4 linked regions of the Homo sapiens genome follow. The protein of the gene in region 4 interacts with the protein of the main gene of each other region in a pairwise test. Each region holds a gene or a part of one and is shown on either strand. Other genes may lie near its edges. The genes, in order: FBXW2, PHETA2, S100A7A and CLVS2.

Region 1 (5,971 bases), on a different chromosome or scaffold from region 4:
AGCCTTGTGCCCTTAAAGCCTGAAAGATCAACTAGCCCAAGAGCTGCCTTACATGGCTAAACCTGCTGAACTAAGAAACTCAGGAATGTTTGCTATCCTATAAAAAGTTTCAGATAGAAAATCTCCTCTCTGAACTTAGAAGCTGGAGATATAAAAGCACACCTGACACCCTCGAGTCTGCATTGAGTAAAAATAAAACACAGGATTACTATGTTCTTAGAATCTGTGCTTGGCTGCTTTCCAAAATGAATTCCTCATTTTAAACTTCAATATATATTATGGTTAATTTGGGGAAAAAACATTTTGACTCATGACTGTCCATATTTTCCTTTAAATAGTATTGTTGACTAGCTCTAATCTTTGGTACTGGGTCTTACTAGATCTACTTTTTGCATAATTTGTGATGTACCATATAAACCAGTAATATGTAAACAGATTGTGTATAGGTTTACTTGACACAAATCCTTTTTATGTAATGAAAGAACACTTCAACGCATGTCTTGGGTTGAACTATTATTTCTAAATCAGTGATAATTAGATTAGTGAAATTTTATTTATAGCCATAATTCATCTCGACCAATGATTTCACAAGTATTTGAAAGTGTAATGGGTAAAAGATGCAGACAGAATTCAAGAGATACAAATAAGCACACATAAAAATATGTCATTTTCTCTCTAGTCCCCTCCCCCATAAAAATGTTGTCATGTGTTAAAGAAATGTCAGTTAAAGCAACCTTGAGATACTTCCTTTATATCTATTAAATTGGCAAACATGTTTAGAAATGTTCTTTCTTGACTCGGGCAGTGGTTAGACAAGTGTTCACTTCATAACTATTCGACAAAACTGTGTGTTGTATGCACTCTTCTGTACCTGTAACAGAAAATACTAAGAAAAAATTCCACTGCTTTTGCGAGTAAGTCTTCTACTGGAACTTGTTCTAAGGAAATATGCACAAAGAAGTTCTCTGTAGTATCTTCTAAAAAGCAGAACTGGAAACTACCTAATTATCTACCAAAACAGAAATGGTTTAGCAAATTACAGTAATGAAGGAAAATTACAAAATATTATGGTAGTTGTAAAAACCTAAAGCACATTTTTGAGAATGTATTACAAAACAATGATTTGCAGTACATAAATCCATACACATGTGCATAAGGATTAGAAGAGAGTATTAAAAATCGTAATGATAAAGGAGCTCTGGGTAATTTTCTCCATAAGTTTTTATTACTGTTAGATTATCTTTACCACAGAGAGCACAGAACATGTGGTTAAAATGCAAAGGACAGGAACATCCCACTGGCAGGGACTACTCATGTCTAATCACAGTGTGATCATTAAATATTCTCTCCAAATGTACTCAGAACACTTCAGATGTTTACAGGATATGGCAGAAGAGGGACGTCTAAGAGAGGAAAAGCTGTGTGGAATTGATCTTTCATTTGCTTCTGATCTTTTATTTTCAATTTTAGATGCTCTGGAAGTTATTTTTCTTCCAAGTTTAGATAGCTCTTAAGACAATCCATGGAATTCATTAAAATCTCAATGAATTCCTACTCTCAATCTTACAATGTTGCTGGGGAAACCAGGTATTCACTTGTATTTTGGAAAAAACTGAGAATCAAGGATGAAAGTTAATAGTTGTCTACTGCAAAAGGTACAACAGTATTTATTGCTAAATGAACTGCACCACTAACCTTACACAAAAATGCTCAGTGAGGCTGGAGTGGGGTATGGTGGTCAGCAGAGGCTTTAAAGATAGTGGGAGATCAATGGGATTAAAGCCTGGCCCTAGGACTGGTGGAAAGGAACATCAAGAACTTTCCACGAGGATGGGAGATTAACACCCAAAGCGCAAGGGTGGAAATAAATAGAGGAGCAAGAACTGTTTGCTCGAAGAAATTAGCTAGGGCTCCATGATGTTAAGGAATCCAGATGTGCCCTGATGGTAACGGAGAGTTACCAAGATTGAACAAGAGCAAGTAAGTGCTCAAAGAAGTGGTTGGGGAGACTCCCTGGAAGCAAAGCATAAGACAGGTTGAACAGTGCACACAAGTGGTGAAGGCAGAAGGCAGCAGTCGGGATTTGAAGAGACTTGAAATACAGAAAGAACAGACAAACATGAAAACATGGAAAAAATCCAGGTGTGTGGGGGCTGAAAATCAGGGCTTCAGCCTCACCACTTACTATAACTCCTCTAGGCAATGAATCACTTTACCAAGCCACAGCTTTCTCATCTGTAAAACAGGAATGACAATCTGCCCTTAATGATGCTGTCAGGGGATCAAAGGTGCAGGGCCGTGGTACTCAAATGACAAGAAGCCCCGTAAGTTTAAGTTAGTAAGAAAGAACTCATGCAAAGATGTGCTGGATAGACACATCCTTGGGCAAAAGAGAGGAAGACTATTCCAAGGTCTGGAAGCAAAATGGGACTTTTACCCACCCCATCCCTTCATTTGCAACTATTCATGAAATTCACCAAAATTATTTCCTTGTGTTTTACCTTTATTGTTTTGCTTTTTGGATCACCTTCAGAAATGGTTATATTGTTGAGTTTACCTTCTAGAAGATGCAGAAACAGTAAAAAAACAGAGCCACCTCAGATCACTCAAGGGGTTGTTCTATTTTCAAAAACACACTGACTTTTGAAAAGTCCCTGCATTGGTTGGATAAAATGTCTGAAGTGGTTGGGGGGAAAGCAAGACAAAGTCTTAACTACAGAATATATTTTTAAGGAAATGCAGCTTTATTACTTTCAAGTACAAACAATAACTTGGGCTTGGCTAACCAAATTTGCCTAATTGAGGGAATCTGCTTTAATGTACAGATATAAATGATTTATAGTTAACACAATCACTCACGGGTAAAAAGAGTGCTTCTATGATGCAAGAAAATAACTTCTCATCTTAGAGACATCTTGTTCCACAATCACCCCACTATTTGCTTAAGCAACCTCTTCTTCCCCCTACCCCACACAGTTCAAATATAAACTTTATCTCATGCCCTCTAAATCACAACATACATCAAATTCGTGAAATATGAGTTGATTACTTTTTCCACATTGCTATAGATGTTGGATTGCTGACAGAACTATCTCTTCAACCTGAGCATTCTCATCAAGTATACTAAGTCTAAATCAGTGAAATATGCCTGTTCACAATCTGAGTACAAAGACACCAAAACATGAGCTTTTATCATCTGAATTACTAATTTTCCAGGGTTGAATATTAAAAACACATATTTACTTGGGCACATTTATGAAGAGTAGAAGTAGCTGAATTCTTTAGGCTGCAATAATTAAGTGGGTTTACACTGGTCAGGATTGAATTACTAAATTTAAACAACTGAACTGTTCCAGGAAAGACAAGAAACACTGAAACATCCTAACAGCAAAACAGCTTTTTGCACTGAGCGTGACCATTCAGTCTGATTAGGCTGATGGGAATGGTGCAAAGACTACTCAGTAATCCATTTGAGGATTTATTCTGAAAAAAGTTTACTTTCCTAGAGCAGGCATGGGGAACCTTTGATCAGAAACACTGCCAAAGATGGCTAATGGGCATTGTGTCAAAAAAGTGAATCTGTTCTTTTCATCAGACATTCTGAGGACAGCATAATTCTCAAGTGTCTTGGTTGTCTAAACCAAGCGAAAGCACCAGCGTAACCAGGTAGGAGGGCTGTGTCAAGAAGACGGACCTAAAGGGCTTCTCCCCTATCCTGACAACTGTGTCCACAGGCAAAGGTGACAGTATGCCCTGCCCGGACTGCATCATGAGTAGCAATCTGATTCTGCTCGCTTCCCAACAGAGAAAGGCAAGTGGCTTCATACACCAAGGCCCAGAGGAAGAGGCACAGAAAGCTATAAAAGTGATGCTGGGGCCGGGCACAGCAGCTCACGCCTGTAATCCCGGCACTTTGGGAGGTAGAGGCGGGCAGAACACGAGGTCAAGAAATCAAGACCATCCTGGCCAACATAGTGAAACCTCGTCTCTACTAAAAATACAAAAATAGCTGGGCGTGGTGGCACGCGCCTGTAGTCTCAGCTACTCAGGAGGCTGAGGCAGGAGAATCGCTTGAACCCAGGAGGCTGAGGTTGCAGTAAGCCGAGATCACGCCACTGCACTCCAGCCTGGGGATAGAGCAAGACTCTGTCTCAAAAACATACAAAAAAAACAAAACAAAACAAAAAAAACAGTGATGTTGGTAGGATTCACCTCTAGGCAATCTGGAAGCCACACAGTAACAACTTCAAGTTGCCAGCTGGGTTTGGTCAAAGAAATGTGTAAAGCCAGGATCCACTATCCTTAGCTGATTCTGTTAGATCAAAATGCCTAATACAAACAATTTCCTCATGTCTAAAATACTGTTTCCGAAAGTTATTTCTTTTGTTTTACAAATAGAGAGCAGTAATCATTTTCCTATGAATACTAGAATGATTATATAATCCTCATTCAAACCTCACACCAAGTGTTTTCAACAGCCAGAACAGAGCAATTTTTAAACTACGAAAAATGAAGTGCAAACCTTACAATTTCATAGCAATGTTCCCCACGTTTCACTCATGAACAGCTATCCAATTGCATGCACCTTCCTGCAGAACTTCTTCCAAGTCCAGTCCTTCCACTGGAGGGGCTTTCTTCCTATTTCTCCAATAGGTCTAAAATGTCAGGTTACAGTCAGATTTGGCAATGTGTATTACTTCAAATGATTGAGCTGGAGGAAACTACATTCCTTTGGAATGATGACAGAATCTATCAGAAACTTCACACATCCACTCAGCTCTCCTGGATCCCTGTCCACACCATGAAGCCTGAAGTTGTTATGATGGCCTTTATGAACCTGAAAGAAGCCGCTGGCTTCCACCACACCACAGTGTCACCCAAGAAATCCAATCCTTGTAAGAAAGGATAGGGCTTATCTTCTCATGACTTAGAATTTTTCAGAAATGAGAATATTCACAAAAGAGGGAAAGGCAATTCCCTTACCTATGCGCTAAGGAAGCCAAAGTCAGTGTGTGCAAGAGCTAGCTCTCAAAGGCAATGAAAGGAGAGTAAAGAATAGTTTTAGTTATCCCCTATCCACTTCTCATTCTGACTCCCCACTTTGCTTTCTTTTGCAAAAAGGATGAGCTAGTTTTCCATTTTTATAAAAACTGGCGATAGTATGAATAAACCCAGCATCTATAAAGTAGTTGAATAAAATCTCAGGCCAAATAAAGGCCTCCATAAGGAAGAACTGACATTAGGACTCCAATTACTGCCTGAAGTTCTGCTGTCAAAATCCAGCTGCATGATGATGCCACTGTACTCCAGCCTGTATGACAGAGCAAGACTGCCTAGGAAAAAAAAAAAATTCCAGCGGCACCAAGTACCACCTTGATGACTTCTGTATTCACCACTAAAAACTGAAATAGAACATACTATATACAGCTTCAAGTTTGTCACTTTTTAATAAAACTTTTCCCACAAATGATTATAATTACTTGCCCTTTGAAGCTATTGGATAGATCTGAAAGTGAGGTAGGGTGGGGATGGTCATTAGATCAGTAATAGTTATCTGTTCAGGCTCGATAAAAAGTAAAAACTCGGCCAGGCGTGGTGGCTCACGCCTGTAATCCCAGCACTTTGGGAGGCCAAGGCAGGTGGATGACCTGAGGTCAGGAGTTCAAGACCAGCCTGGCCAACATGGTGGAACCCTGTCTCTACTAAAAATATAAAAATTAGTTGGGTGTCATGGCAGATGCTTGTAATCCCAGCTACTTAGGAGGCTGAGGCAGGAGAATCACTTGAACCCAGGAGGCGGAGGTTGCAGTGAGCCAAGATCGTGCCATTGCACTCCAGCCTGCGCAGTAAGAGCGAAACTCTGTCTCAAAAAAAAAAAAATAATAATAAAGTAAAAAGTCATTTACCATCATCATTGCCCAAAGTCTCCTGGGGCTTCTGCAAAATAGATTCAGTTGTGATTCCGGTTCTA
Region 2 (7,783 bases), on a different chromosome or scaffold from region 4:
GAGGCAAGAGAGATGGCAGCAGATCAGAGAGGGAGGTGGTTCCGTGCCCTCCTGGGGAACAGCACCGGCTCCAGAGGCAACCTGGACCCCAGCCCTGGGACTCCTACTCGCTTGCTGTGTCCCTAAGGTCCCTAAAGTCTCCTGAGAAGTGGGCTCGTCTTTCCTTCCTTTTCTCTCAAAGGGATGTCGTGAGGATCATGCAAAAAAAACTGGACACTGGCGGACTTCGAGAAAAGAATAACGAGATTGCATCAGACAGGAGGCATGGCAGGACCTGGGCACGGCTTTCTAAAATCCAAAGAAACAGGCCCCAGCTGAGCTGAAATGGACCCCAGACCCATCGAAACCACTGTGCTTAAACTATCCCCTCATCTGGGGTCCTCTCAACTCCAACTCTGAGGCCAAGCTTCCAGGGTTTCCATGACCCTCCTGGGCCTCTACTGGCCTCTTATTTGCATATAGCTGTTGAATCTTATTGACCTACAGGCAGAAGCTGAGGCACAAATATAACTTTAAAGAGTTTACTTGAGCGAGAGTAAGGATAACTGCCCAGAACAAACTTCTAAGTTGCCGTGGGGTGTGCTGCGTTGGGCCTTTCCTACAGGTTTTTATAGGCAGAAGGGGGCAAGGATGACAAAGTTGTTTGGCAGGAATTCTCCTTGGTTTATAGAAATAACATTGATTGGTGGGGTGCGGTGGCTCACATCTGTAATCCCAGCACTTTGGGAGGCCGAGGTGGGTGGATCACCTGAGCTCAGGAGTTGGAGACCAGCCTGGCCAACATGGTGAAACCCCGTCTCTAAATACAAAAATTAGCCAGGCACGGTGGTGGGTGCCTGTAATCCCAGCTACTCGGGAGGCTGAGGCAGGAGAATTGCTTGATCCCAGGAGGCAGAGGTTGCAGTGAGCCAAGATTGTGCCATTGCACTCCACCTGGGTGACAAGAGAGAAACTCCATCTCAAAAAAAAAAAAAGAAATAACATTGATTAGTGATTGGCTATACATTGTTGAACTATAGGGTATGAACTATAGGGTGTCCAGTGTACAGCATTTTATGGCTACTTGGTGTCACTCTAGAGCCACATAGCAAGTGGCTTCAAGAGGTAATTCTTGATCCTTTTGTAGTTCATGAGCGTGATGATTGGGTGTTCACATGCATGTGTGAGCTGTGCCACCCTCGAACCTTGTTACCATGTAGGCACATTACCGATCTGACATGAAGAAAAGAAAAGAAAAAAAAAGAAAAAGAGATAATTCTTTAGCTCAAGGGAGGAGTAAGACTTGACAGCTGTTGCGTTTCAGTATGTCTGGGCCTGATTATTTAAAGGGGCTCCAATTCCTCAGATAAAACATTATTTTTCTGTCTCAATCTGCAGCCTTCAGGGCCAGATGGGGAGCTACTCTGTACACAAGAGTGTGGCACAAACCCAGGGTACAGCTGAGAAGAGCTAACCACAGCCATTGAATGTGGGTGCCCCCAGCATCATGAACGGCACTTAGTCCAGCTGTCCTTACTCATGGAAAACCAAGGCCCAGCGCAGTGAGGGGAACTTGCCCAAGGTTACATGGCCAATGAGACGCAGAGCTTCGTCTCCCAAATCCCTCACACTGTACCCACTTACCAGCAGGGCTCACTGGGGGAGGGCAGGGACCTCTTGTCTGGCCACACAGCTCAGCCCTTCGACCACCTGGTTCCCAGGGAACCTGCAAAACAATTCTCAAGCCCAGTCAGCTTATCCCAAAGAATGAGAACTCCTACTCCACCTTCGAGGCCTAATGAAACCACAGCCTCCACCGGGAAGCCTTCCCTGACCCCTGAGAATCCCCCCACCCATCCACCCAGCCAGGAACCCCTGAGCAGCTTAAGGGGATGGGTCCCCTTGTCTTGACCTTTACTCTTCAGACCCCAGCTCCCTGCCTGAGTCCAGGTCAGAGCTACACATGCCCTCATGGTTCCTAGCTTTTCCCTTCTAGCACTTCCTGGCTTTAACTGAAGTCACCTAATCTGGGAGGCCTTCCATGATCACCATATCATCTAAGGTGGCCCTGACCACCAAGGTGGCCTGACCTAAGGTCACCTGACCAGTAGACCCCCCCATTTCTGGTTTGTTTCCTTCATCCCACGACGATGTCATATGTGTTTACAGCACTGTTCCCAGCCCCAGAATGTCTAGGGTGGGGCTCAGCTAAGTTCCCAGGAGAACCCCAATACCCAGCACCGTGCAGGGCTCAGAGAGGCCCTCAGGAGGGATCTGTTGAATTAATGGGGATACATCAGTGGACAAATCGAAGTCTCCCGCCCTCCTGGAGCCTACATTCCCACAGGGGGAAACACACTGTAGGCAAACAAAATAAATACTAATAAATTAATGAAAGAATAATTAGTGAAATAAGAGATAACATAAGGACCGGTAATGCTAAGGGTTATGGAGAAAAACAAGCCAGGCCCCTGGATGGGGAGAGACGCCATTCCAGTAGGGGGGGCCCAGGAAGGGGGAAGAGATCACAGATGTTTGCCAGAGGAGTGGCCTCACTGGGGGTCCTGGGCCCAGCACTGGGGCACAGGGAGGGGGTGGGCAGCCCGTGGGGCCATGACCCCTCCCCTCCCCCGCGTCTGGGGAAGGGCGCTCCCTCCTCTCCACCAGTAGGGGGGCCAGGCCACCGCACACCGGGCCTCCCGCCCGCCCCACCGTCTTCCTGGATTCTTTTGTTGGAGGAGAGGCGGGCTGGGGGTGCGGGACCGCCGGGCCAGTGGCCACTGCGGGGAGCCCCAACCCGGTTGTCGCCCTAAACAGAGGTCACCTCGGTCAGGGTCTCCCTGGCTGCCGCCTTGGTTTCCCCGTCCTCGCGTCGGGGCTGTTCGCCGCCACTTCCCCGCGGCCACACCTTCCCTGGGGCCACCTCCTCCCGGAGCCCGCCGGGCCCACTCTCACCTCCCGCCGCCGATCGCACCGAAGCCCAAGAGGGCGATCCCAGCTCGAGATCCCGCGCCTCCGCCTGGGCTGCAACGTGGCCGCGGGAGCCGGGAGACCCCGCCCGGGAGGCTGGAGTTAACGCCCCTCCCCGCCCAGTATTCGCCAGGCCCGGGATCTCCGAGGCCGCCTCGAGGTCTGCCAGGGCGGGAAACTGAGGCCCGAGAGGGCGGTGAACTGCCCGAGCCACAGCACTGGTCGGTGCGGGCGGCCTCGAACCCAGAGGCCCCCCTCGGACGGTCCGCGGGCCTCGGACCCAGCCCACCGTCCGGAAAACTCTGTCCATCTCTTCCTCTCTGGTCCCCCTCTCCCTGCTCGGCCCACTTTCCCGGCAGAGCCAAACCAGGGATGTCTCTGGGTACCTCCCTAGGGTGGGCTCCTACACAGCCCGCGAGGGCCAGCCAAGCTTTGTTGGCCACCCACCGGGCCACCGGGGTCGGCTGATTTCTGCCTCTGGAAATTACCCATTTCTGCTTCCCTGGCCTGAAACCCACCGGCAGCCCCCAGGCTCTGCACTAGTGGGTGGAGGAGGAGGCCTGCGGTGAAGGTCGCAGGAATGCACAACCAAACCCAAGAGACTGGAACTTCTGGAAGGCCCTGGAAGCCGGAGGTGTCCTCAAACATCTGCCCATGAACCTGGCTCCCGCCTCAGAGCCTTTGCCCTTGCAGTTCCTGCAGCCTAGAATGGCCTTCCTTCCCACCCCCAACCGCAGCTCCACTCCTCAGGACGCCTCTGGACACAGATTTGAGTCTCTGCTCAGTGGTCTCCTCTGGGACCATTGTAAAGCAACCTGCCCTGCAGTCTCTGTCCCATCCCTGGGGTGTTATTTCCATCAGAGCACTCACTGCTAGAGTAAACTTTCCTATGCTCATGCTTTTATTTTCTTGTTTATTGCCTGTCTCCCCTACTAAATTTTATTCAGTTAATACTGTACACCATAATAAATGTGTTAGAAGATAATAAGTGGCATGGAAAAACAGAGGAGGGTAAGGGAGATGGGAAATTGTGGGAGTAGGGAGGTTGCAATTGCAAATAGAGTGGTCAGGGTAGGCCTCACTGAGAAAGTAACATTGGACAAATACTTGAAGGAAATGAGGGAGCCAGCCATGCCAATTCCAGGCAGAGGGAACAGTCAGCGCAGTGGCCCTCAGGCCTGTTGTGCTTGAGGACCTGCAAGAAGGCCAGTGAGGCTGGGAGGCCTGGGGAGGGGCAGACAGTAGGAGGTGGGGGTAGAAGGGGTGGGATGGGGCTCTGTAAATCTGGGAGGGCTGTTACTCTAGACAGGGCTGTGAGGAGGGACCTGAGCGATTTCAAGGCATACTCTGGCTTCTGTGGTGAGAATCAATGTCAGTGGAGGCTGGAGACCAGTGAGGAGCCTGCTGCCACTATCCAGGCGAGATGTCACAAACGCGGCAAGAGCGGGGAGGGAGAGGCAGCCAGAATTAGAATGGCTGTTGAAGGTAGAGAACACAGGATTTGCTGAGGAGTTGGATGTGGGGAGTGAGGGAAAGAGCAGGCAGGACTGCACAGTTTTGGCTTGAGCACCTAGGAGAGTTGTCATTATCTGAGATGTGGAAAGTGGCCGGTGCTTGGTCTGGGTTATGTTTGAGACACCCAGTGGCCATCTGAGTGAAGGTGCTGTTGGGGCTCAGAAAGCGATGCCTAAAAATATGGCACTTGGGCATGCTGAGTACTTTGAACCAAAGGACACTGGAAGAGCCTCAGAAGCAAAGTATCTCTCTGACCTTCTCCTGCCCCCCTTCTTTCTCCTGTTTTTCTCCTGCAAGGCAGGCCATAGAAACTAAAAATCCTCCTCCCTAAGGTGAGTTATAGCAACTACAAATATTGGCTGGGCACAGTGGCTCATGCCTGTAATCCCAGCACTTTGGGAGGCTGAGGTGGGCGGATCACGAGGTCAAGAGATCAAGACCATCCTGGCCAACATGGTGAAACCCCATCTCTACTAAAAATACAAAAATTAGCTGGGCATGGTGGCGTGCGCCTGTAGTCCCAACTACTTGGGAGGCTGAGGCAGGAGAATCGCTTGAACCTGGGCGGCGGAGGTTGCAGTGAGCAGAGATCGCGCCACTGCACTCCAGCCTGGTGACAGAGGGAGACTCTGTCTCAAAAGAAAAAAAAAAAGAAAAAAAAGTAACTACAAATATTACTGGAAACATCCCCCACCTTTCTGTGTCGGGCCTGGCCATAAAGGAATTCTCTGATCTACCTTGCCTGATACTAGGTCATAAGACTCTCATTCCAGAAGGGGTCCTGCCCTCCTCCCAGCAGGAGGGAATGCCACACAGAGAGAACAAGAAGAATCCGAATCTGAACAGACATTGCTGGGTTTCCACACTCAGCTATTAACATTAAATCATTCCCTTTTGTCTAATCGCGTTTATACACAGTTGTCCATTCCTTATTCCTTTTTTTTTTTTTCTGTTGCCCGGGCTGGAGTACAGTGACACAATCACAGCTCACTGCAACCTCGACCTCCTGGACTCAAGCAATCCTCCCACCTCAGCCTCCCGAGTAGCTGGGACCACAGGCACCTGCCTGGCTTTTTAATTTTTTGTAGAGACAGGGTCTCACTATGTTGCCCAGACTGTCCTTAAATGTCTGGCCTCAAGCGATCCCCCTGCCTCAGCCTTCCAAAGTGCTGGGATTACAGGCATGAGCCACCAGACCCGGCCAGGGCTGTCCATTCTTCATCAAACCGAGACATAAAAATAAAGATTTCCCTGAGTATTTGTGTCTTCATTCCTGAAGGCTCTCAAGTCACATAAAACATTGAGTAAATCAATCTATTATGCTTTTCTCTTGCTAACCTATATTTTATTTGTAGGAGTGTCCGCTGTGACCTTTGGGATGAGTAAGGGAAAATATCACACCTTTCTGCCCCTACAATGCCCAGAACAAAGCATTTGGCACTTAGCAGTTTCTCAATAAATACTTGATGAATGAATGAAGAAGGAAGTAGCCCAGTCTGTGCGAGTAGTCCCTGAGCGTCAGGCGGGGAAGGAGAGCCGGCTGCCTTTGCGGGAGCTGTGACCGCCTGCTTTGGTGCCTCCCACGCACCCTCCTTGTAGAGACGATTAATCCCAGACTTCCATTTTCCTAGCAGCTCACTAGGCGGGCCTTGCTTCAGAGCAGTCTCTCATTTCCTCTGCACAAAGCCCTCAACCGTCCTCTGCACGGCCGCTTACTGAGCGCCCACGGTGAGCCTGGCACGATCCTTGCCCTCTTGGTCCCCACAGAGGTGGAAGGACAGGCCTCGCGGGGTCCGGGCCACGAAGGACAGCCCCGAGTCCGTTCTGCCAATGCCTGCCTCGCTAGCACGCAGGGCGGGAGCCCAGTGGGGAAGGGCTTAGGGAGGCTGGGAGGCCGGACCCATATGGGCGGGGCACAGCGTTGCTAGGGGGGATTCTGATAGGTTGCGCGAAGGGTTGCCTTCGTGAGGCCCCGCCCTCACTGGAACGCTTCGGACTTATCAGGTTACCGGATTCGAGTCAGAAGCGGCGGCAGGTCTGAACGCTTCGGTAGGATAAGTGCGGTGGGAGGGGGCTCTGCGGTTTTGGGGAGCCCAGGGCGGGAACCCGGACCCGGCTGGAAGTCCGGAGCCTGGCCGCAGCCCCGCCCCTCCGCTCTTTCTTGGTGACCTTAAGCCAGTGGCTGCCTTTTTCTGAGCCCGGGCGGGGCCGAAGGCGGCCCGTAGGCCCTCGGGACTCCCAGCACTGCAGAGGGTGTGAGGTCTGACATCCAAGACACGTTGTTTCGTATTTCTGAAGGAAGAACTGAAGCTCCGGGAAGTGATGGCTGGGGATGGGGCGGGCAACTTGGGGACCGAGTGTACGATCCACGCCTAAGGTTGAGGGCGGCCGAGCTAGCCAGGCAGCCGTGACCCCAGTGCTTTTCAGACGTTTCTTAGCTTCCAGAGCCCAACACATACAGCTGATACACGCAGACCAGATCTGGTCAGGTCCTCGGAAGCTGAGTCCAGAGCGATGCTGCTGAAGACAGGTACCTACACCGGCTGGGGTGGCTTGGAAGGGTAGGGGTGAGTGCTACAAGGAGTGCTTTGGCCCTTCTTCCCTAATGTGGGTATGTGGAGAGACAGGTTCCTCTCTCTTTTACTTAGAGCTGGGCAGGAAGGGAGGAGATGCTTCCCCATACGGGAATCATTTCTCCTTCAAAGGGGCCCTTCCTTTCTCACTTCCTCTCCCTCAAGCACAGAGGCCCTAACTGATGGATATCAGCATGTGCGGAGAACCGCCTGTACAGTCCCTACAGTAACTCCATATTACAGATAAGGAAACTGAGGCCCGAGGGGGAAAGGTCTCACTTAGGTGAGCTGATTGGGTGCCCATCCTGGCTGGCTTACTTCTTAAGCCTCTCTGAGGCCTCTTGAGGGTCTGTGGTAGAGAGCAAAGAGCTCTGGACTGGGGCTCAGGAGACCTGGAGTCTGGCCAATGGTCCCGACTTAACGATTTTTCAACTTTACTGTGGTGTGAAAGCGACGCACATTCAGTAGAAACCACAGTACGTATACAACCTGTGTTTCAGTATTCAGTAAATTGCATGAAATATTCAACAATTTATTATAAAATAGGCTTTGTGTTAGATGATTTTGGCCAGCTGTAGGCTAATGTGCGTTGTCGCACTTTTTTTTTTTTTTTTTTTTTGAGACGGAGTCTCACTCTGTCACCCAGGCTGGAGTGGAGTAGAGTGGCGCGATCTCGGCTCACTGCAACCTCCATCTCCCAGGTTCAAGCAAGTCTCCTGCTCAGCCTCCTAAGTAGCTGGGATTAC
Region 3 (7,064 bases), on a different chromosome or scaffold from region 4:
CTCTGCTGGAGGCCATAGGGGGAACGTTGCTGGAGGGACATTACTCCTGGGTGACCCACTGGATGGGGGTGGGGGAAATTCTCCAACAAAGTTAACCTGGAATTGGTAGTTTTGACAATGTAGGTCACCAAAGAGAAGAAGAAATAAGGCAAGTGTCTGGTGGGAGGAGACACTTATTGTTCCTGGGGTCTCTGGAGGCCCCTTGGTGGGGCTGGATCACTGGCTTCCCCCAGAACAGGGCGCCGCTCCATGGCTCTGCTTGTGGTAGTCTGCGGCTATGTCTCCCAGCAAGGACAGAAACTCAGAAAAATCAATCTTCTTATCCTCATTCTTGTCCTTTTTCTCAAAGACAGTGGCGAGGTAATGTATGCCCTTTTTGTCCTGTGAAGAGAAAAACATACAAAATAGAAAAATTCAATCACAAACAAGTTTTGGGCTGGGAGGGGAGAGGAGGAGGCAGAGATACAGACAAGTACCTAGATCTGCACAGGCATGGTCGTGGGGCTGAGAGCACAGGGTGAGTGGGTGAAGTTGGGGTGAGGACGTGAGTGTTATCCCTGGAGTTCTCTAAGGAGACTTTTTGTCTCACACCTCAGGATGGGAGGCAGGTCCTGTCCCGAGGCACTCTGTTAAGTGACCTTGGGGAGAGCAGTCCCCTGCCCCAGCCTCAATCTTGCCTGTTCCCAGCATTTAAGGGCACTGCCTACCTTAGTTCTACCCCAGGGCCTCAAAATTGGCCCTCATGCTTTGTTCTCTTCTTTCTCTGACCTCCTCTCCTTTCTTCTCCTTTTCCACCAAACTCATCTTCTGGGTTCCCTACTCTTGGTCATCTAGACCCTTTGGTACCTAGTAGCCCACAGGTTTTTTCAGATTTGCCAATGAGTTTTCTTTATTGCAAAGAGGGCTATTGATTTCTACTAGCAATGGAACTTCTAGTGCTTTCCCAGTAATCTCAGGGATGTTGATGTGGGGCCTTTGGGAAGCAGGACCTGAGCATGTGAGTTTCAGTCTCACAGAGAGAGGGTCAGTGAGCGCTGGGAGGGGACTGTGCACTGTCCTCAAGCTGCACACTTTGCTGACCATCTAATAACCTCCTTTATATCTGTATAACTCTTTCCCATTTTCATACTTTTTCGCCTACCATCCTTAGATTCACATATGATCCAAGCAATAAAGCCCTATTTGCAAATGGGAAACTTTTTAATCAGAGGATGAGGGTGACCTGTCCAAGGCCACATAGCAAAATGTATCCTCAGCCATGCCAGGGTCCAACCAACATTGAGAAGCTAGACCCCAACTCACACAGGCACTGAGGAAATTGGGGAAGTTCTCCTTCATCATCGTCAGCAGGCTTGGCTTCTCAATCTTGCCATCACGTCCGGTGTATTTGTGAAACATGTCGATCATGCCTATTATGGACCTCTCAGCTTGAGTGTTGCTCATCTTTGCTTTCAAAAAGCCTTCAGGAAATAAAGACAATCATTTCTTACCTTAGTTTGAATTAAGGTCTCTATGTGGGGGTGTTAGAAGGAGGGCTGAGGACAGAGTAAAAACAGCCCTAAGATGGAGCAGAAGGAACTTGATTTTTTTAAATGTGATGGGATAAGTTGTTCAAAAATGAGAGGGTAGGACCAAGTCTGAGACCCGGCCCATCCTGGCCAGGGCCAAGAAGAGATGCAGGTGGATGGCAGAAGTCCAGCTGTGGACAGTGCTTCAGAGAAGGAGAAGCAGGGAGAGTCGGAGGCCAGCAACACATAGAAGAACTAAGCTGGGACCCCCCAGCCTCAACCAGCACATGGCGGACCCCACTCTTGAAACAGCACCAAATCCATCTCCTCCAGCTTCACAGTCGGGGTGAGAGTCACGGGGGCAGGACAATGGCCTTGGTGATCTGGTGTCTGACCCTCCTCGGCTGCTTCAGGAACCAGACACCGTGGGCCCCACCTTGACTCAAGTGCAAGCCCTGCATGACACAGTGCGTGCAGGCTCCAGGTGCACATGTGAGCGTGGACATGAGTGTGAGCAGGAAACACAGCCCTCTCCCGAGGACAGGGGGCCCTTCCTACATTCCCTTGGGAATGAGAAACAAGAATTGCCTCTGTTACAAGGAACAGAAATAACTCCCTGGTTCTTAAGCTGCTGGATGGGGTGGGAGTGAGGTGGGAGTCGCTTCATGTCTGCTCTTGGGAAATATCTGCACCCTCTGAATCACCAAGGGTTGACCCTGTTTAAATAAAAATGTCTGACTTTCCAAAGCAGATCTTCCAGCCAGTAGCCAGCCTGGGCTGCCCTGCACCCCAAGCCTGAAAAATAAGACAGTGCAGCTCTCATTTCTACACTTTCCAAAGAACCAGAAAAGGACCTTGGCTAACGCATGTGGGCATCTGACAATAAACCCCCAACACCTCTCAACGCAGGAGAAAGCTCCGTGCCAGCAACTGACTAAGAGAAGCCACTCAAAGCTTTCTGAATCTGAGGCCAAGGCCAAGGCCAGAGGCCAAGCCCTGTGCCCAGAGATTGACTGAGAATTTACAGGTCCAAGGCCTGGGGGTTTGGAGAGCCTCCAAAGCATTCACAGGGGATCCTTATCCCTCCTCCCTCTGTGGGGGCAGAGCTGGGGAGGGGATTCAGCAACTGGGATCCCAAAAGGAGAATGAATCCAGGGAGGAAGAAGACAGGAAGGAAAGGGAGGGTCCTGTGCTCAGGTCCCACTGGGGACATTTCCACAGGAGTTGTCTCAGGAGATCCCAAAGGAGCAATGGACAGGTCTGGTTCAGCCACCTGGTTGTACAGACGTGGGCTTTTGGGGTCAAGTGAAGGTCACACAGCCCAGCTAATGGCAGAGCTGGCCTAGACCCAGGCTTCTGAGACTTTGTCCACAGCCCTTTCCCTTCCTACAGGCAGCATGGCAGGCTGGGCACTGGGCACTTCTAGAAAATGCAAAGAGGCAGGTGAGACTTACCAGAACTGGGAAGTGTCACGAGTAGAAGGATGAGTGAGATGTGTGTGTTTGGACAAAGAGCAGTCCTTTATAAGGCTCAGCCTGGCTCTTCCCACGGGTTGGGAGGCCTGGGGCCACCTCTGTCATCTGTTTCTTGGAGGCTTGTCCCATATCAGGTGTGTGGGACACACCCAGGAGGCTGTGCTCAGGATTTCTGGCCAGGGTCCCAGGTCACCAGGTCCCACCCCACCCCAGAGACCTCACCTGGGGCCTTCTCTGGCTCAATCTTGATTTGAGGGTAAGGCAGCGGTACATGTGTAGTAACAGGTCAGGAAATGGGAGAAAAGAGCACTGGGCCTCTGGACCCAAAGAGAATGGAGTTTCAGACTCCCAAAGGCAGCATGGTCTTGTTTATTCCCTCCCCCAGTACTTCCACACATTTGTTGTGACAGCCTGTTCTATGACCCCCACCGCTTACTGAGCGTTTTAATGTCTAGACATCAAGACACCTGCTGCTCTTGCATCCTCCTCAACCCTCCCCTCATAGTCTTAAGAAGCAGGTGCTGCAATCTCTATTTTAGGAAAGGAGAAGTTGAGATGTTCCCAAGTTTACTCAGCTAGTAAACACAACAAATCATCACACGAACAAAGAAAAGCCTGAATCAAATCCTTACTCTTATCCCCTGTGCTATAGGTCTTGGGTTGCATCAGGGTCTGCCCTATGGGAACTCAAAGTCCAGGGAGGGAAGCAGGATTACTTCATTGCTAACCATTGGTCAGCCCCTCACAGAAGCCCTGGATTTAGGTGGGGGGACTGGGGTCAGGGGCCTCACTATCTAGGTTGAGTGGTGGAGTGACCCCCGCCCCCCCCGCCCCATGGAATGAGCCTGGAGGTAGGGAGTGGGAAAAGTTCTTTCCTGCCCCATGGCACTAACTTCCCAGAAAGTCTTCAGTGTTTTTCCTCCTCCTATGCAAAACAGCCTGTGTAGGAGTTGGGAGTTGTGCCCTTGGCTATAATGTGCCCTAACCTGCTGTGGAAAGCCTGAACCAGGTAGGGGCAAGAGGGTTGGGAAGGCACAGGAGTCCCTGGGGCATGGTGAGGAAAAGGAGATGATGAATCACTGAAATGGACTTTTTCTGCTACCCCCTTACAATGTTCCTTGTAGGCCGCAAGAGGTCCTGGTTCATTTAGTGCCAGCCCTTTAAGCACTCTGGGGCTCCATAGAGCTGATGTGATGTCTCCCTAGGTGGGACCTATTTTCTCCACCCATCATCTTTCTTCAACTTCCTTCTCTGTCAGTTCTTATGTAACCAGGGGGACCTGTTTCTCCCTCTCCCAGTTTCCCATATGACGGCAATATTACTTTTAGCGGCAAAAGATACACACACACACACACACGCACACACACACAAACACACACACAAACGCACACATACACACACACACAGACGAATACTACTCAACCATAAAAAGAATGAAATGATGACTTTTGCAGCAACATGGATGGAACTGGAGGCTATTATCTTAAGTGAAATTACTCAGAAAAAGAAAGTCAAACACTGTGCACCCTCATGTGTAAGTGGGAGGTACATCATGCATACAGATGGAGGTAGAGAGAGAGTAGAATCATAGACACTGGAGACAGTGAAGAGCAGGAGGTCAGGTGGTGGGTGAAGGAGGAGACATTTCTTAGTGGGTACAATGCGTGTTATTTAGGATGGCTGCATTAAAAGCCCGGACTTCACCACTGTGCAATGTGTTCATATACATGTGTATGCAGGTTTTTGTGTGGACATAAGCTTTCAGTTCTTTTGGGTAAATCCCGAAGAGTGTGATTTCTGGATCCTATGGTAAGAGTATGTTTAGTTTTTTAAGAAAGCACCAAACTGTCTTCCCAAGTGGCTGTACTATTTTGTGTTCCTGCCATCAATGAATGAGAGTTCCTGTTGCTCCACATCCTTCTTTAGCATTTGGTGCTGTCAGTGTTCCAGATTTTGGGCATTCTCATAAGTGTGTACTGGTATCTCATTGTTGTTTTAATTTGCATTTCCTTGAGGACATATGATGTGGAGCATCAGCTGATATGCTTATTTGTCACCTTCTGTATCTTCTTTGATGAGATGTCTGTTAAGGTCTTTGGCCCATTTTCTAATTGTTTGGTTTGTGTTCTTATCTCTGAGTTTTAAGAGTTCTTTGTACGTTTTGGATAACATACAAAGTCTGATATGTCTTTTGTAAATATTTTCTCCCAGTCTGTGGCTTATCTTTTCATTCTCTTGACAATATCTTTCACAAAGCAGAAATGTTAAATTTTAAAGAAGTCCAGCTTATGAATTATTTCTTTCATGGATTGTGCCTTGGTGTTGCATCTAAAAAGTCATCACCAAAACCAAGATGATCAAATTTCCTCTTATGCTACCATCTAGGAGTTTTGTAATATTATGTTTTGCATGTAGGTCTATGATTCATTTTGAGTTACATATCATCACTGTTTATAAAAAAAAGGAACAGAAGAAATGCAATACAAAAGGAATCAGGGACAACAATATTAATACAAGACAACAAAGAATTCTAAGAAAAGGGATTAAATGAAAAAGAAGAATATTTCCTATTGATTAGTGTGCAAGTCACCAAGATGCAATAGTCTTATCTTTTTTTTCTTTCTTGTTTTTTCTTTTTTATGAGACACACTTTTGCTCTTGCAGCCCAGGTTAGAGTGCAGTGGTGTCATCTTGGCTCGCTGCAATCTCCTCCTCCTAGGTTCAAGCGATTCTCCTGCCTCGGCCTTCTGAGTAGCTGGGATTATAGGCGCCTGCCACTATATCCAGCTAATTTTTGTATTTTTAATAGAAATGGGGTTTCATCATGTTGGCCGGGCTGGTCTCGAACTCCTGACCTCAAGCGATCCACTCATCTCGGCCTCCCAAAGTGCTGGGATTACAGTTGTGAGCCACTGCACCTGGCAATAGTCTTATCCTTATATACACAAGAACATAATATTGAATTATACAAAGCAAACATTGAAATAAATTAATGAAAACTGACAAATTTATATCACTTGGCAGTTTCTGGCAGAGTCTGCCCAGGAACTCAACAGAGTCGTCAGATAACAAAACACCAGTAATGGTGCAGAGCAGGGCGGGCAGATGCTGCCACAGCCCAGAAGCAGCCCTGGACATAAGGGCCCCGTGGATGAAGACAGCTGTTTCTAGTAAACACTAATCTCCAGAATTGGTTGGCCAGCTGGATTTGGCTTTAAGACCATAATTTGCTGATTCCTGATACAAAATATTTGAAGGACACACTTAAATTTATTTATATACACGTGCATTCATAAATTTGTGCCTGACCATAGAGAATACATATAAATTTCTTTTTTTGTATTGAGGTTCTTTATTAAATTAATTATATAATCTGTATTAGATAATTAACGTTTTTACAAAAATTATTATTATACTTTCAGTTCTAGGGTACATGTGCACAGCGTGCAGTCTTGTTACATATGTATACATGTGCCATGTTGGTGTGCTGCACCCATTAACTCGTCATTTACATTAGGTATATCTCCTAATGCTATCTCTCCCCGCTGCCCCAACCTCACGACAGGCCCTGATGTGTGATGTTCCCCTTCTTGTGTCCAGGTGTTCTCATTGTTCAATTCCCACCTATGAGTGAGAACATGTGATGTTTGGTTTTCTATCCTTGCGATAGTCTGCTGAGAATGATGGTTTCCAGCTTCATCCGTGTCCCTACAAAGGACATGAACTCATCCTTTTTTATGGCTGCATAGTATTCCATGGTGTATATGTGCCACATTTTCTTAATCCAGTCTATCATTGATGGACATTTGGGTTGGTTCCAAGTCTTTGCTATTGTGAATAGTGCTGCAATAAACATACGTGTGCATGTGTCTTTATAGCAGCATGATTTATAATCCCTTGGGTATATACCCAGTAATATGATGGCTGGGTCATATAATGGTATTTCTAGTTCTAGATCCTTGAGGAATCGCCACACTGTCTTCCACAATGGTTGAACTAGTTTACAGTCCCACCAACAGTGTAAAACTGTTCCTATTTCTCCACATCCTCCCCAGCATCTGTTGTTTCCTGACTTTTTAAT
Region 4 (6,986 bases):
TAACTGTAAATGTCTTGTACGATGGCTCCAGAGATGATTTAAACTAACCAGATGCATTGAAAGTCACCATTCACAGAACTAAAAATACACCAATGTTTTAACAAGCAGCTTCTTATGATTCATAGCTCTGGTAGCATTTTAAGTCCCATGAAATATATTTAACTTTGAACTTAATTGAAACTACCTTGCACAAGAGCCTTTTATAATTTCTTATATCTTTCAGTCTGAGAAAACAGTTCTGAAGGAGGACAGAGAAGTGTCATTGCCTGCATTTTTCTATAATAATGTAGATAAAAAGAATATTATTTCTTCTCTATTAAGTAGCACATGAGCTCAAAAAGTCCACCAACTGACACATCTGAATATTTTCCACTTCCTTCCAAAAGATGAAAAATCACATGAGACAGGAGACAGATTCTTTAGATTAGTGGCAGGTGTAGGACACATACACCAGTCAGTGTACATTTTCAGTGTCAGCAGGCATGCTCAGCGACAGAGGATGCAACTCTTCCTTTCACTGAAGGGACACAAATCATATTATTCCTTCTTCTACACATCACCAAACAGAGAACTTCCCAAGCAACAAAACTACTTGCTTTTGGTCGAACGCCAGGCTATGCTTAAAAGATAAAACGTCAGTACCAAAGAGAGGATGATGATGATGATGATGACAATGATGATGGGTCTAGTTTAAGAATTTTTTTAGGAAGAAGGAGGAAAAGTTGTCCCCATTTTCTTACTGGTTTATCCAGCCCAATAAACTTTTTCAGAAGGTGAAACATACAGAGAAGCTTTATTTACAAGTTAAGTGATTTAGATCTCTGTGCAATAACGTGGTTAAGGTAGCACCTTAAAGCTGCAGTAGAAAGTGGGTGTTAGTGAAGTAAGTTTTAAAAGTAAAAATACAAGCCCTCCTCCCTTCCCAGGGTGCCCACCAAAAACTCATCTCCTGGTTTGTTTCTCTTTTCTCCAAGCCAAATAAACAAAAATATCAAATCTACAAAACCATGACACTACTCGGGGTAAATTCTGGAAAATGGGAGAGTAAAAGGAGAATACAAGTTTGGATTTAGGATTTACCTGCTCTGATCCCAATTGGCAGCAAAAAGGACTAGAATCTTCCTGCCATAGTGGTCCAGATTGGCCAGGCCCCCAGGGAAGCCATCCTTCAGTGCCTGCTTGATGCCAGGGTCGGTGGCCTTAAAGCTTTTGAACATGTCCAGGTTCTGCTGCCGGTACTCAAAGTACTGCGCCAGGAGGCGGAAGGCCTCAAAGTGATGAAACTTCCTAGCCCGCAAGAAGCGTAAGATGAAGGCATCATCCGTGCGCAGAAAGCCAATGTCCGGCCTGGTGATGACCATATCCCTCACCTCCTGGATGTCCTGGTGCAGCGTGTCTGGGTTTTCATTGAGCTCCAGGCGAGCTTTCTCCAGGGTCTCAGGGGAGAGACCGGCTTGCAAATGAGTCATTGTTCTGCCTATCTCTGAGCTTTCCCTCAGAAGACCTTGTTGACTGTCCCAAAGCAAACCTGGTCCTTGCCACCACCAGACTCCAGCCCCCAGACCTCCTGCTGCCTGCTTCCTCTCCCCTACAGGAAATTAATAATCTTGGTGTCCAATCAAGTGCCCTGTTGCTCCTGCTTTCCCCCAGCAAAGCTGGGGGGGCCGGGGGGTGTAAACTTCTTCCTCTGCCCCCTAAAATACAACACCCTACTTTGGCTCCCTCTTTCCTTTCCTTTAAAGAGATGTGAACCCCTGAAGGGCTCCGCACTCCTCTTCTTGTCCTTTCTCTTTCCTAACAAATCACCCCTAATTCCACCTAGCACGGGTGTTTCTGATCTTGGTACTGTCCTCTTCTCTTCTCTTCCAAGATGTAACAAAAACAACCCCCACGCACATCTCAGCCCCTGCACTGTGAATGTTCCTGCGGTCCCTGCTGAAGGATACGCCTGCCAGGGGTGGCGATGGAAATTCTGATTAATAATAAGGTAGCTCTTCAGCGCTGAGCTCCAGGGCGGAGAGAGATCATCTTTGCCAGAAAGAAAAAGAGACAGAGAGAAAGAGGGGGGAGAAAGGAGATTATTTCTCCCTGTACTTATTCAAAGACGCTATTTTTAAAAGACAAATTTGTGTGATTTATTTAAGATTATTGTGATCCAATTAGGTGAAGACTCTGCAGATAGCGCACCTTCCCACCACCCCTCTGAGATACACCGTGATCTCATAAGGCACCAGCAGGGGTTCTGGTGGCGTTGGTACCAGCGTGGGCTCCCCCAACCCCACCCCCAACTTCTGCCTTCCTCTAGCCCTTCATTTCCACGGACTTGCCGCGGGGTTGGAGAAAAGGGGGGAGGGGGAGGGAGGGGACCGGGGATATCTCTGGGAATGCACATTTCAAAAACGAAGAGAAGGGGAGGACGTTGTGAAGAATAAAATAAAAATGTCCTTATCTTTTCTATAAAACCCCAAAGCAAGAAAGAAGAAAGAGCAGCCGCTCCTACCAGCAAACCCAGAGGCGGGGTCGCTAAGCAATGCGGCACTCCCTGGCATCCATCAGCCGCGGCTTCAGCAGCGGCGGCGGCGGCGACAGCGGCATCAACTCCTCTGGGCGGGATGGAAGGAGCAGAGAAGAGGGGTGGCGGCGGGGACCCGGGCCGAAGATGCGCTCGGGAGCAGCCGCGGCCACATCGTCCGCGGGCAGCCCGCAGCCTCTCCTAGCAGGAGGGGTGAGGATCGCAGGGCTAGGGCCACCGCTGTCCCAGGTTCTCGCCTGGCCCTGCCATTTTCGCCTTCGGGAGAGAAGGTGGGGAGGAGGACGCGAACGCCTGGATGGAGAAGGCCACTCGGGCGGCCACCGCCTTTGTGAGCCCTCCGGGAGCAGCCGGGGAGGTGGGCGCAGCGGGGCGGCTGCTGCGCGGCGCTGGCCTCTCCTGGGGCTCTCCCGAGCGGTCCGAGTCAGGGTTGCCCCACCGGGCTGCGGCGGCGGCTCCGGCTGCTGCTGCTGAAAGAGGACTCGGCTCAGCCCAACTCCTCTCTAATTATCCCAGCACAGATCTCGCTGCGACGTAAGCACTCACTCAGCTCGCGCGCGCGCTCCGCTCCTTTCCCTGCCTCGTTGGGGTAGGACGGCAATTTGGGTGGCATCGAAATATCCCGAGCCCTAAGTTTAGGCTGCTCTTCGTCCCCACTCCTCAGCAGGCTGCTGAGCGGGCGTCGCCGGGCCAGGCGGGGCAACCATGCTTTCCAGCCTCCCCACGCCCCTCTCTTCGCCCTTTGTGTGCAAGACCCCAGATCAGCCTGGAGAGTAGCTGTTGTAGACGGTAATTCACATTGACACGCATTTTCTCGTTCCTGTAGGAGGCAATTTTGATGTAGAAGGAGTACGGAAACATTCTGTACTTTTCGCATTTGTTGTAGACAGAGATATTTAATTTAGAAAACACCAGAGTGGTTCCAAGACAATGTACTGATGATTAAGCCTCCGGAGGAACTTATATGAATAGTTTTTCAACCAGTCTCCCTGCTAAATTTCTGTTGAAGAGGATGAAAATGAGCACTAGGGTAAATGATAATAAAAACATAATTCTCAAAGGAAGAAAAAAATAGGAACTTCACTCATATCTCATCATAAAGCAAATATTTCTGGAAACACATACCATCCTTCCTTCAGTTGTATGCATCTGTATATGAGAATCATTATAAATAAACAGAAGTCCTTGCGCTTAATATGACTATCTATGGATTTGAGGAAAAGGGATATTTTCTATTTTCAAAACACAGCACATATTACTGAGCGTGTTACTAAGAGCAACTTTTGACTTTATAAACTGTAGAATGGGGTCTTGAATTGAAGTTAATTCAATGCAACTAATATTTACTGAGTTCCACGAGGTGTGGGGCATTTTTCTGCATTCTGTGTATAGGAGGTGGTCTTGAAGATAAGCAAATTTTGTCATTTTCTTATCTTGACATTTCTTATCTTGTCATTTTCAATGTTGATGACTATGAGAACCCTCAAAATACAGGCACACTTGTTTTTGCTCTTCTCATGGCGATGGTGTTGATAAAAAGAAAGAAGGAAAAGGGTTGTATGGTAGAGCTAGAGCATTTATTAATTAAATTAATGCAAATTAATGTAGGAACCCGAATAAGACAATAAATTACACACACACACACACACACACACACAGTCATTATTGTCAAGGAATTTATGTTTTAAATGGGGAAGGCAGAAAATAAACCACTTAAGTGTGTGTATATGTGTGTTATATATATGCACTATATATAAGGTCCTTCTAGGATTTTAAGTGATTATGACTTTCTCAAGCATGCTGAATGCAATGTGAACTGTTAAATTTTTGGTTCTCATTTTAAAACATTTGAAAAAATCATTTTTTCTAATATTTTAGAGGTTGAAGAAAATTTATGTTTCGTATCAACTGTATGAAGAAGTTTTAGTCATCACCAACATGGAGAGACAATTCTCCCTGGATCCGTTGTGTTTCTACCTGTCTTATGACCAAGGCACTAATTGCCCTTTTTTCTAGACTGTCTTCTCAAGGGTATTTGTACAGTAAATAGTCTTGGAAGATATTGGAAGATAGAGATAGTACCTCCATCTGAAACAAAGCCTTGAAAGCTGTGATATCTCTCTCCTGACCAAAAGGTAGGCAAGCTTATTTGAATTCCCTAAACTCAGAGCTATTCTGCTGTAATGCCACCCATTGTTTATGCCAGTATCACTTGATCCTCTTTTCTTAGCTATCTGTGGGAATTAGAGCTCAGGGGACCAGTCAATGCAAGATATGCAGATGCTCATACTGCCCGCTATGCCTGAGTGACAAAATCCTTTATCTCGAAGCCAAGAGTTTTGCATCTTCCATCGGCATCCATGAAACTACAGCCAGCTAACTTGTTAGCCTGTAAGTGAAGTTAAAATTCAGATCTTTCACCTTGATGAAAAAACAGTTGTTTAATTTTGTTCTCTGAGATGGACATATTAGACTATATTTTTAAGGGAATTTATAAAATAAAATGTATTTTTTGGCCCAGCATATGTTATGACCAGTATTGAAGGTTGAAGGATGACATTTTTATTATTTATTATTTACCAATAACAGAATTGCTTCAAATAGATTTATTTTAACATATCTACATATGATAGAAATAGTCTCTATCACCCAGTAGGATTGTTGGAGCAGGTCAGTTAGGTATATATAAGATTTTTAAATCATATTTACAAAACTTTAGTGATTATACTGTTATTCTCTCTCTACTTATACATTTGAACTCAGTTCTGAAACCAAAATGAATACACGAAGCCATCTAAAATTAAACAAGGTGTTTATTCAGATGACATCAGAGCATTTGATTTTCATTCAATATTAATCTACCTTGCCAAATTAATGCAAAGTAATGTAGGAACTGGAATATGAGAATAAATTATCTAAACAAAAGTATTAATTAAAGCATTATTGGAAAAATAATTAAATCAAGGACTTCAGGTGTTTTCAAGTAACTAGAAAGAAAAGTTTGGTTTACTGCTATATTTAAAATGAGTAGAGTAAGTACTTTATGTTTTAAAACATTTTATTCCCTTTATTGTTAAATAAAATATATGCACAAAAAGGAGCACAAAATAAAGATGTACGGCTCAATTCTATCTTACAAGGGAAACACACATGTAAGTGTCCAACCAGGTTAAGAAACCAAGCATTGTCAGTAGCCAGAAAGCCCCCTCCCATTCCCCTCCTAACTACTGGCCTCTTTCCAACAAAGGAAGCCACACTGTCTTTATTTTAAAAGTAATCCTTGTTTGTTTTTTTTAAATTTTACCAACTAAATAACTACAATTTTGTTTTTCTGTTTCTGAACTTAAATGTAATCATTTATATGTAATGTTATGATTGACCTCTTTCATTCAATATTAAATTTGTGTGATTTGTCTTTGTCAGTGTTGTTGTATGTAGCAGCTCCCTCATATTCAGTAATGGTGCATAAAATTGCATTTCTTTTTTTCCTGAGACGGAGTCTCCCTCTGTCACCCAGGCTGGAGTGCAATGGGGTGATCCTGGCTCACTGCAACCTGCGCCTCCCAGGTTCAAGTGATTCTCCTGCCTCAGCCTCCTGAGTAGCTGGAATTACAGGCACACGCCACCACTCCTGGCTAATTTTTGTATTTTTCGTAGAGACAGGGTTTAACCATGTTGGTTAGGCTAGTTATGAACTCCTGACTTCATGATCTTCCAGCCTCGGCCTCCCAAAGTGCTGGGATTACAGGCATGAGCCACCGCACCCAGCCGTAGAATTTCATTTTTATACACCTACTACAATATGTGTGTCATTCTACTGTGGAGGGAAATTTGGGTTGTTTTCAGTTTGGAGCTCTTATGAACCATGATGTATGAAGATTCTGGCACATGTCTTTTGGTGCACATGGAGAGACCTAGGAATGAAAATTTCTGGGTCATATGTAATGTGCATCTCCAAATTTAGTAAATAATGCCAAACTGTTTTCCAAATGGTTGTTTCACCAACCCCCAGCAATATATGAGTGTTCTTACTGTGCCATGTTCTCAGAAATCTTATTATTGTCTATAATTTTAACTTTATCCATTCTGATTTTGAACAAGGGTATTGTATTATGGTTTTGGTATGCTTTCCCATCACTACTAATGAGGTTAAACTTTCACGTTTTTTGGGCCATTTGTACATTATTTGTGTGAAGTGTCATTTCAGAGATTTTGCTGATGTTTATAGTGGGGTGTTGATTGCTTTAATATTGAATTGTAGAGCTTCTTTATAGATTCTGAATATAAACCCTTTGTCAGCTGCACATGTTGTGAATATCTTCTCCATGTCCATGGCTTGTTTCTTTCACTCTCTTAGCCCTGTCTCTTAATCAACATAATTTTAAATTTTTAGGTAATTCAGTTTTTCTCCTATGAATAGTGCTTTTTAGGTCCTGCTTAGAATATCCCATAATTA

Evidence for each region.
Region 1: the proteins of CLVS2 (region 4) and FBXW2 interact in binary tests that used the Homo sapiens proteins (3 or more experiments, as listed by UniProt).
Region 2: the proteins of CLVS2 (region 4) and PHETA2 interact in binary tests that used the Homo sapiens proteins (3 or more experiments, as listed by UniProt).
Region 3: the proteins of CLVS2 (region 4) and S100A7A interact in binary tests that used the Homo sapiens proteins (3 or more experiments, as listed by UniProt).

Annotation. Positions count from the first base shown.
Region 1 is NC_000009.12:120,756,474-120,762,444, forward strand, and holds the end of FBXW2 (F-box/WD repeat-containing protein 2), read right to left. Parts: 3' UTR 501-5,971; downstream 1-500. UniProt on the Homo sapiens protein: Substrate-recognition component of the SCF (SKP1-CUL1-F-box protein)-type E3 ubiquitin ligase complex.
Region 2 is NC_000022.11:42,069,493-42,077,275, reverse strand, and holds the start of PHETA2 (sesquipedalian-2), read right to left. Parts: upstream 3,029-7,783; 5' UTR 2,935-3,028; intron 1,706-2,934; 5' UTR 1,624-1,705; intron 1,218-1,623; exon of another isoform or gene 1,115-1,217; intron 1-1,114. Other genes in the region: NAGA (alpha-N-acetylgalactosaminidase precursor), read left to right, coding at 6,979-6,994. UniProt on the Homo sapiens protein: Plays a role in endocytic trafficking. Required for receptor recycling from endosomes, both to the trans-Golgi network and the plasma membrane.
Region 3 is NC_000001.11:153,412,462-153,419,525, reverse strand, and holds the start of S100A7A (protein S100-A7A), read right to left. Parts: upstream 3,007-7,064; 5' UTR 2,963-3,006; intron 1,461-2,962; 5' UTR 1,444-1,460; coding exon 1,303-1,443; intron 382-1,302; coding exon 217-381; 3' UTR 1-216.
Region 4 is NC_000006.12:122,992,261-122,999,246, reverse strand, and holds the start of CLVS2 (clavesin-2), read right to left. Parts: upstream 3,013-6,986; 5' UTR 2,501-3,012; intron 2,029-2,500; 5' UTR 1,470-2,028; coding exon 1,081-1,469; intron 1-1,080. UniProt on the Homo sapiens protein: Required for normal morphology of late endosomes and/or lysosomes in neurons. Binds phosphatidylinositol 3,5-bisphosphate (PtdIns(3,5)P2).